Linked DNA regions of Homo sapiens. The protein of the gene in region 3 purifies or fractionates together with the protein of the main gene of each other region. This does not show direct contact. Each region holds a gene or a part of one and is shown on either strand. Other genes may lie near its edges.

Region 1 (2,834 bases), on a different chromosome or scaffold from region 3:
AAGTAAGGACAGTCCCTGAGCTGACTGCATTTATAGTCTAGTAGAGAAAACATAATCAAATAATCACAAATACATGACAGACCTGTATCACATGCATACTTAAAAACAGAAATCTGTAAAACAAACATGTTTCATTCTTTGATCTAAAATGTTACATTTCACGTCTGAACCCTAGCAAATATTGTATATTACTACACAAATTATATTAACCATACCTGTTATAAGACTGCACAAACAAAAACTAAACACTTTGAGGGAGATTAAACACTTCGAGGGAGTGAATGAAACACTTCGAGGGAGAATGTAATTTCTGCTTTACATACTAACTTTACAACCTAATTTTCAAGTAAGACATGACTCTATTGCAAGAATAAAATGGCACTTGTCATGAGTGCCAAAGAGTAAACATAAGGGCTGTGATACTGTATAACAAGGAGATTCTAATCTCATCTACAACATTAGAGAAGTCTTCCCCTTTAAATATCACGAGGTCAAAAGGATAATGTTAAGAGAATGAGCACATTTGAAAGCTGAGAAATAAAAATTAGGCTGTGTGGCTATGGCTTGTAAGTAAAGTGAACATGAGATAAAGCTGACAAGGTTTCAGAGGAAGATCACAGAGAGCTTCATAGGTCATCTTAAAAATTTGAATCTTTGGCTGGGCGCGGTGGCTCACGCCTGTAATCCCAGCACTTTGGGAGGCCGAGGCGGGCGGATCACGAGGTCAGGAGATCGAGACCATCCTGGCTAACATGGTGAAACCCCGCCTCTACTAAAAATACAAAAAATTAGCCGGGTGTGGTGGCAGGTGCCTGTAGTCCCAGCAACTCGGGAGGCTGAGGCAGGAGAATGGCGTGAACCTGGGAGGCAGAGCTTGCAGTGAGCTTGAGTGAGACTGTGCCACTGCACTCCAGCCTGGGTGACAGAGCAAGACTCCGTCTCAAAAAAAAAAAAAAAAAAGAAAAAAGAATCTTTAGGAAAAAAATAGTAAAAATTCAAAAATAAGCAAAAATCAAATAAAAATAAAGGAATAAAGATATTAATGGAGTTAAATCCTCCAACATGATACTAGGATAGGTTTTTTTTATACCTTCCAGAAGATTTACTACCTTCCCCCTAAAATAAGGTATTAAAAAGTAATTTTATGGTAACTAAAGTGTTAATTATCAAATTTGCATTATAATGCAATGCATTCCTTTCAATTATACTTAATTATTAAAAATGTCAAAAAGCAAGACCATTGAGTCATGCAAATTGGAAGGTTAAAAAAGAAAATCTTCGTTTGAAAATCTGAAGTCTTAATATACACTCAAAAACATTTAATATTGACAAAAATACAAAACTTCCGTAGGAAAAAAATTCTTAATTTAACTCATTTAAAAAAAAAAAAAGTAAATCCTCCAAAATTAGGTTTTGATGCTGGAAGAAACATTAAAATATGATGACAAATCAACTCTTTTCTCTTATGGAACCCCATATAGCATGAAATGTAGAAAATCCCTATACCTTTTGATCCAGAAATAAATTATGTTCACATAAAAATTTACATGGCTGAGAGCAATGGATCACGCCTGAAATCCCAGCACTTTGGGAGGCTGAGGCAGGTGGATGACTTGAGGCTAGGAGTTTGACACCAGCCTGGCCAACATGGCGAAACCCTGTCTCTACAAAAACTACTGCAGTGGTTCAGGCCTGTGGTCCCAGCTATTCAGGAGGCTGAGGCAAGAGAATCACTTGAACCCAAGAGGTGGAGGTTGCAGTGAGCTGACATCGCGCTACTGCACCCCAGCCTGGGCAACAGAGTGTGACTCTGTCTCAAAAAATTAATTAATTTTAAAAAGAAAAATTAATAATATTTGAAAAATCACAAAGGGGCAAACCAAACATTTTGACCACTGACTGACCAGCACTTAATTTTAACATAAAATTGTAAGTCAAATTTTTTTTTTTTTTTTTTTTTTTGTGAGACAGTCTCGCTCTGTCTCCCAGGCTGGAGCGCAGTGGCCCAATCTTGGCTCACTGCAAGCTCCGCCTCCCGGGTTCATGCCATTCTCCTGCCTCAGTCTCCCAAGTAGCTGGAACTACAGGCGCCCGCCACCACGCCCAGCTAATTGTTTTTTTTGTATTTTTAGTAGAGACGGGGTTTCACCGTGTTGGCCAGGATGGTCTCAATCTCCTGACCTTGTGATCCACCTGCCTCAGCCTCCCAAAGTGCTGCGATTACAGGTGTGAGCCACTGCGCCTGGTGTCAAATATTACTAATATAATTGAGGTAAAAAGAAATCTTAGAAAAAAAATGTCAGCTGGTTTAGCATGGTGGCTCACGCCTGTAATCTCAGCACTTTGAAAGGCTGAGGTGGCTTGATCAAGTCCAGGAGTTCATGACCAGTCTGGGCAACATGGCAAAACCTCTTCTCTACAAAAAATACAAGAAAATAGCCAGGTGTGGTCATACACACCTGTAGTTGCAGCTAATTGGGTGGCTGAGGTAGGAGTATCACCTGAGCCCAGGAGGTTGAGGCTGAAGTGAGCCATGACTGCACCACTGCACTCTTGCCTGAATAACACAGTGAGACCCTGTCTCAAAAAAAAAAAAAAAGCCACTTTTGCAAAGAATAAAATTTACAAAAAAAGGTTTAATAAAACCCTACATATGTGGGTTTTAAACATGGAACAAAAACCAAGATATGTTATATAAATTTTAATGAAAATTATACGTAGTAAACACACATGCTTTAAATGCACATATACTATTTGCCAATAATCACTGAATTATTATTATGAGCATACATTAGCTCTTTTCAAAGTAGTACTTTTTTCCAAACAGCACTTTC
Region 2 (3,655 bases), on a different chromosome or scaffold from region 3:
CACCCAAAATATTCCCTTATGCTAGGATTTCAGTGCATAGTACAAAGAGCCTACTGGATCTTGCAAATATTTTCATTTCACAGTAGTTGTCATTTAAATGGCATTGGTTGTAATGGGACTGCAGATCAATGTAGGATCTCAACATCCTGCAAATATAGCCATACCTGCTGTCTTCCTCAAGCCACCTCAGGTTGATCTAGCAGTTCAGATTTCTCTGAGTCAGATGGAAACACTAATTCTTTCACAAACCTAATTCTTCTAGCATTCTGGAGCATCCTCTCCTCTGCCTTCAGTTGCATGGGCTTATTCTTCTCCTATGAGTTTTCTCACCCATTCTGCTCACTCAAATAGGAGTCAAGGCTGGGTCACAGGCAGGAGCGGGATGCTAACACATCCAGCCTGGTATTCCTGTGTGCTTCTGATTACAAAGTTAAAATGTATTCACTATCAAAAATTTAGGGGAAAAAAAATCCAAAACACAATATTAAATTACAAGAAAAACATTCAAATAAATAATCTTGAATCTCACCTTTCCAAGAAAACTAATGTTTACATGTTATTATAACCTTCCAGTTCTTTTCCTTCAGATACTTAGACATTTCTAAATAGCGAAGCTTTTCATTCTATTTCATGGTGTTTTTTCTTCCCCAAGCTAATGAGATATAAACAGTCTAAGATCATTAAACACTCTCCAAAACCTATTTTCCATAGCTATATATCATGCTATTTGATAAATTACATCATAATTTTGGTGATACAGAAATAAATGGAGAACGAGTCTGCTGTTCAAAAGTAGCCTGTAAGCATTTGAGTAATAAGTTAGTAATAACATTTGAGTGGTAACTTACTGTGAACATATCTCTCAACAACCCACATTAAGCGCTTTCTAGATTGATCACATTATTAAGGGAGAGAATCAGCTGAGAGCCTGGAAGGTGCTATGGAGACCTCTGGGTACTCACGAGATGCCTGCCATTCCGAGTCTTCTTTCCAGCTCTTACAAATCTGCTTCGTTCTCTCTTCTTCTATTTGATTTATTTCTTCATCTTGTTTTTTCTTCATAGATTCTTTCTTCTGTTTAAAAACAAAACAAAAAAAAACAAAAACAAAACAAAACAAAAAAAGAACCTTGGTGAGCAAATCCAGCAGTTTCCTGAAGGACGGGGTACCCGGCACAGCTGACTTCTATCTAACTCTCTGGCCCACTAGGAAGGATCAAGTGTGGACTTTGGAGTCAGTAAGACCTGAAGTAAGACTGACCATTGCTAGCTAGTGTGTAACTCCAGGAGCAACAAATGAACCTCTCTTGGGCTGTTTCCCCATAAGAAAGATGAGAAAAAAATATTTCTTAGGGTTATATTGAGGATTAGATAACTTAAGAAGTCCCTGGCACAGTGTATAACATATAGTAAGAAAAAATATTCCTTTTCCTCAGACACAGTACTTAGCTGCTTCAAACTGACTCCCTGAAGGATGTAAACACACTATTACATAGAACTAGCATCAACCTACTTTACAGTAGCTGACAGACTCCACAGAAGAAATGCACATTCCCAGAGCAATCTCAGCTGAATCTCTCCCCCGAGTCATGTGTCCCAAAATGTGGTACTTACTACATGATTTTAAGTGTTTCAAAAGAAATATATATCATTATTATTTTTTTAAGATGGAGCCTCACTCCTTCGCCCAGGCTGGAGTACAGTGGTATAATCTCGGCTCACTGTAACCTCTGCCTCCCAGGTTCAAGCGATTCTCCTGCCTCAGCCTCCTGAGTAGCTGGGATTACAGGCAAGTGCCATCACACTTGGGTAATTTTTGTATTTTTTGAAGAGATGGAGTTTCACCATGTTGGCCAGGCTGGTCTCGAACTTCTGACCTCAAGTGATCCACTGCCTCAGCCTCCCAAAGTGCTGTGATTACAGGCATGAGCCACCACACCCTGCCAGAATATGTATTTTTTTGTTTCAAAAAAAAAAAAAAACAGAAAAATATTTTTCAAAAGCATCTTTTGAGAAGGGAGAAATACTTTCAAAATGTAAATATTCCTTTAAAAGGAGAATTAGGTTTTTAAAACTTAGGGTAAAATTCCACATAACAAAATTTACCACCTTAACCATTTTTTAGTGTACTGTTTTCTGGCATTAAGAGCATTCAACGGAAATCATTTTAAACGAAAGAGAAATGAACAAACCAAATCACTTAGACCTGAAAAGTACTTTGCTTATTTGGACACAACCTTCTGAGTGCTCACAAGACGACTGAATTTACAGTTTGGTGGACTAATAAAAGCCTTGGTTAGCTAAGCAATAAAACAAACTGAAATGGCCAGAAAGGGCTGCCTGTGCCCACCTCTCTATCACAAGTGACAAGCTTTTTAATTTTGTGCTTTCCCACAGAAATGTAAAGACTTCCTTGCTATTATGTCACCACAACGTAAAGTATAAACATTAATATTGTGAAACTTGTTTCTGATCGCTCTGGGCAGTCATAAATCACAGTTCAAGTAATCATCATTCATAAATTGTGCTTCACTGCAGATGTAACTAAACTTCTGTGCATTTACTGTTTTCATTTTTTTTTCCTTACACTGTTTTCCTGCCTAGAGCTAAGCTCCTTTTGTTTGCCAACATTTGAAAATCCAAAGGACAGCTTTGATGTTTGAAAGGACTGTTAAAATTTGCCATCCTTTGATTGAAGCTGTTTGCCAGCCCAAGATAGATACATGTGCTGCTAGCAATTTCTAAGCTTAAACAGAAAAAGCTTCAAAGTGGAGCTTTGTTCATCCTTCCACATGCATACGTGTTTATTTTTAAACGGTTAGGAAACATATAGTGAAAACATCAAGCTATGATCATCATGGATATTGTTGCTGAGGATAAGCAAGAAATTTGGAACATGACATGATTCTACCTAAGAAAAAATATTAATAATAACAGATGTAGTACTTGGTTGATGTTACTCAAATGTCTAACAGAGCTATATTTAATAAATCTACTCCTTTAATCTGCATGTAATTATGTACATGCACAGTGGAAAAGAAGAAAAATTAACGAGTTTCACAGAGTAATAGCAGATGAGATCTGCTATTACCCATCTATATACGGCCCTGACCACCGTATTTATTCAAGAAAGCTAGAAAACGTAAGGAACTTGTCCTGCGTCTCTGAGAGAATTTTACTTTTATCAAAATCTGTAATGGTTTACTTTCTCTATTCAGAAGACCATCATTTCCTTTTCAGCAGTGTTTTGCTGGAAGCATGTTGGACCAGGACTCAGGACTGTCAGCCAGGCATGGGGAAATCCAGGTGATGGCTTGGAGTGGAGGGGCGGAGGGGCCGAGGCTGGATGCTAATCCAGATGCCCAGGGTGGAAGGTGTGGAGACCCAGATGTGTGGTGTGAGCTGTGAAAATGTGTTCAGCTAACAGTACCAGAAAACAAGGGCACGCTGGGCCCATATAGAAAGCCGCTGGGCCCGTTCAGAAAGCCTCTTGTCCAGCCTGTTGATGGAAGCACTTAGAATGCCTCCCCACCAATTCCTTCATCAGAGCCTCACAAGTGTCCCCAAAGGAGGATGCCTCTGTTTTATCACCTTTGTTCTACAGAGAAGCTTAGCAAGCTGGCTCATTCATTCTCTCAAATGATCAGCCCTTTCCC
Region 3 (3,655 bases):
TTTGGTAACAGATTTTCTTCCTCCCGACTCCTGGGTCTTTATAGCTTGTGGCTAAATCTGTAGCTCCAATCTCAGTGTTTTCTAAAACATGTCCTCAAAGGCTAAATGGCTAGGTGGGGTTGCCCAAGGCACTAGTCAGGAGGTGTGAGTACAGGGAGGCAGCTTCTCTTCCAACATGTGGAAGCCAGGGCCCACCAAGGAGCAGACCATGCTGCTCCAACAGGAGTGTGGCTCACTGTCACACCGGTCACTTTCACCATTTTGCAGAGTAAATGTCAACTGTTTCAGCAGAGAATACATTTGAATATACTTAAAGCCAAATAAGACCACAACTGGCAAAGAAATGGCTCCAGGTCCAATTCCAAATGTTGGTTAATCCCCAGTATGGATTAGGCGCATGAAGAATTGGAAGGAAAAAGAGACGCAATTAATTATCAAACTTTAATCGATTGACTAATCTTACAGGATAAACAATAAGACAGCTATTCAAGGTTACACTTTAAAAAAAAAATCCAGCAGTGCAAATCTAATAGACTAAATACGTTCATCTCCTCCCAAACAGGCATTTGATTTGAAAACAGAAACCAGAACAGAGCATACACCACAAGGAAACATGGTACTTACAAATATTGTCAAATAATTCAGCAGAACTCTTTAAGAAAAAAAAAAGGTTCTTAGAAATTGAGAAAGCAGTAGAACCACCCAGCCTGGCAGATCAATCTACCAGATGTTCTGCATGCGAGAGGGCTCCCAACCACCTGTAACTTCAGAAAGGCCGCCAGGCACTATTACGAAGGAAACAGGTGCAGATCCTAACTGGAGATGACTTTATCACAAAGCCTTAAGACAAAGGGACCATCCTCTTCCAAGACAACAGGTGTGAACAGAGGCAAGGAGCGAGAGGAGAGGGCTCCCTCAGCAGATGGGTGGAAAGCAAGCCTGCCCTTGCACGGCCCTTGGCACACTCAATCTACCCCCTTTCCCTTCTCTGCCCCTGGCAAAGAAAGGCTGGGCAAGTGCAAGAGCCCAGAATGGCTCCTCCAGGCACATGGTTAAAGTAAGAGTAAGAGGAAAACAAGCCCCTTCTGGGTGAAATATGGCAACTTTTCTGAGACATGGCAACGAGGCAGAGTTAATCTCTTTGGCCCTCATCAGGTAAAGCAGCAACTAAGGAGCCTACTCAGGGCCTTACGTGGGCCCCTTCTATGTCCACAAGAAAGTGCATCCTTAGCTCAGTTCAACATTTAAAAAGAGCTAACGCTACTTGCAAAAGGCCCACCATGGATTCAAACACTTAATACCAAAGAGGTCCAGCAACTCGCGAGTCTGTCTGTGTTCTGTGATCTGAAGCAGAGCTAAGGGGGGCCTGGCTCACAGGGTCACGCTCTTCTGCCAAGGCGCCTCAGGGAGGGAAAAAAAGGCATGATGATGTCTGTGAGCCAGAACCTGCAGGAGGACCACCGGTAGAGATTCTAGAAGACAAAGAAGCCCTCAGGAGGCTCTGAGAGGTGTCCAATGTCTAAGAGACGGCCACCCCCTCCATCTCTAGCTTCGAGTCAACGCTGTTACAGTCACTCTCCGGAAACCAGCTCTTCCTTTATCCACCTGCACGGCCCCTGCCACAGTGAGGGAAAGATCTGGTCCCTCTGACAGTAAGGAAATTGTATAGAAATTATCCTGAGGAAAAAAAAAACCACTGTGACGCTACCTAAAAGAAAGAGTATTTCAATTTGCTTACACAGATTTAGTCAGTACACTCCAGACTGTAAGAAATGTATGAAGAGACTGCTTACGGAACTCAAAGACTAAACAGTGAATACTACTGTGGCCCAGACACGGATCGAAAACACTTCTCCCAGTGGCTTCTGGTGCTATGTCTGCTCTCCCGAGAGCGTCCAGCAAGGTCTTCCATGCAGACAGGGTGAGGAGCCACAGAGCTCAAGATTGTTGAAGCTGATTTAGTGAGCTCTGTAAAGCAATACTCAAACAGCTCCGTACGAAAAGGTGTCATTTACATTATTATTTATATATAGTATCTCGAAGTAAGGAAAAAAGCACCATTTTACTGAAAATAAAAAGGCTCACGCAGGCTTTGGTCCTCCTGAAATGACACCAGCCTGAGTGAGAAGCAGTTGGCCCTTGGGGAGCGGGGAGATGATGGAACGCTGTCACCGGCAAGAAGGGAGGCCAAGTGGCCCGGCAAGCCACAAGAATGGGGCAATAAGGGGAGCAGGTGGAGGGGCCTCGGAGAGCAGCCAGGCTAGTCTGGGGATGGAGCCACCTGCTCTGAGAGATCAAAAGTAGGTGTGCGGCACTGTCAGGACAAGTCTCTAGGACTGGGGCATTGGCAAACAAAAGGGGCAATGTCTGACCCGAGATGATGTTCTACTTAATGCATCTCATTTCCCCCAAAACCTGTCACCTGCAGACAGAGGCTTGGACAAGTAGCTCAGATGTACTCTTTTCCCCAGGAACTGCAGGCCGACAAGGACAGAAAAGCTGCAATGACTGCTCCTTTCTCAAGGGATGAAAAAACAGGCTGTTTCTTGGATGCTGCACTTCACAAATGTACTAATTGCCCCCAAAAAAGCAAAGAGTAGATTTTCCTGCCTAGATGCATCACTTGGCATTGACTACACCATGGAAAGCAAGAGTCTGTCTATGTGGGCTGGATTCCTGAACTACAGCTTAGAAGGGAAGGGCGTAGAATATCATCATTAACTGGCTCACAAGGAATAGTCATCTTGGGCGAACACATGCTAATACGTTTCACAGAATGAGGGGTGACAGCCTAGAATCCAAAATGTGATGTTTGGAACATTTCTCGCCAAACCTTACTATGAAAGCCTGCAACCAGTGAGAGGAGAACTGCAAAGACGGCAGCAGAGAAACAGCAAACAGCACAAAAGAGATAATTTACCAAGAGACTTTCCCTCCTTTCAGAGGCAACCAAGCCAGAAGGAGATGACAGAAGTTCACGTGTACAGAGAACAGAAGGGCTAAAACCAGAAGAAGGTGAGCTAATCATGAAAGCAATTTATCCCATTTTTGTTGTTCAATAACACTGGCCAACCTGCTAGGGTCAGATGTCTTCTTCAGAAAGGCAGCATCTCTGAACCTGGGATAAAGGACACTTGAACTGAATGCATGAGCAGAAGGACCCAATGGAGAAGCATAATTGAAATCATCCTTGGACTGCTTAAGAATTTCTTGAAAACTTCCAAAGAAAGAAGGTTATCTGGATCTGCAGCTATATGGCTGTATAACTATCTTCTACCTGGCTCCTCCTGGAAGAGGTCTTTGTCTGCTTGGGAGCTGGGGCTGTTGAGCGGCACAGCCCAGGCACAACCATGCCAGGCTGGGCCTCTAGGCCAAGCTCAGTGAGGGGTGCAGACAATCATCCAACCAGCAATGGAACTCCTTGGAGATGGGGGCCCAAAGGGCAAGACATTTAAACAGGAGTCACTGGGAGATACTCTGCTGCTCAACGAACACCACAGCAAGTGTGAGAGCTCCTTGCCCAAGACTGAGCAGCTCTTCCTCTCCCACCGTGCGTTCACAGGCAGCAGCAGCACGGCGGGAGGGAGCCCAGGAAAGGAAGCGTTGATGAGGTACCAAAAGAAGAACTGACATCTTTGGGTTCTTAAAACAAAAA

The links.
Region 1: the proteins of UBFD1 (region 3) and EIF4E fractionate together in Homo sapiens (co-fractionation; one large-scale study listed by BioGRID). This does not show direct contact.
Region 2: the proteins of UBFD1 (region 3) and SH2D4A fractionate together in Homo sapiens (co-fractionation; one large-scale study listed by BioGRID). This does not show direct contact.

The regions. Positions count from the first base shown.
Region 1 is NC_000004.12:98,881,455-98,884,288, forward strand, and holds part of EIF4E (eukaryotic translation initiation factor 4E), read right to left. Parts: intron 1-2,834. UniProt on the Homo sapiens protein: Acts in the cytoplasm to initiate and regulate protein synthesis and is required in the nucleus for export of a subset of mRNAs from the nucleus to the cytoplasm which promotes processes such as RNA capping, processing and splicing.
Region 2 is NC_000008.11:19,358,622-19,362,276, reverse strand, and holds part of SH2D4A (SH2 domain-containing protein 4A), read right to left. Parts: intron 1,075-3,655; coding exon 963-1,074; intron 1-962. UniProt on the Homo sapiens protein: Inhibits estrogen-induced cell proliferation by competing with PLCG for binding to ESR1, blocking the effect of estrogen on PLCG and repressing estrogen-induced proliferation. May play a role in T-cell development and function.
Region 3 is NC_000016.10:23,571,162-23,574,816, reverse strand, and holds the end of UBFD1 (ubiquitin domain-containing protein UBFD1), read right to left. Parts: 3' UTR 428-3,655; downstream 1-427. UniProt on the Homo sapiens protein: May play a role as NF-kappa-B regulator.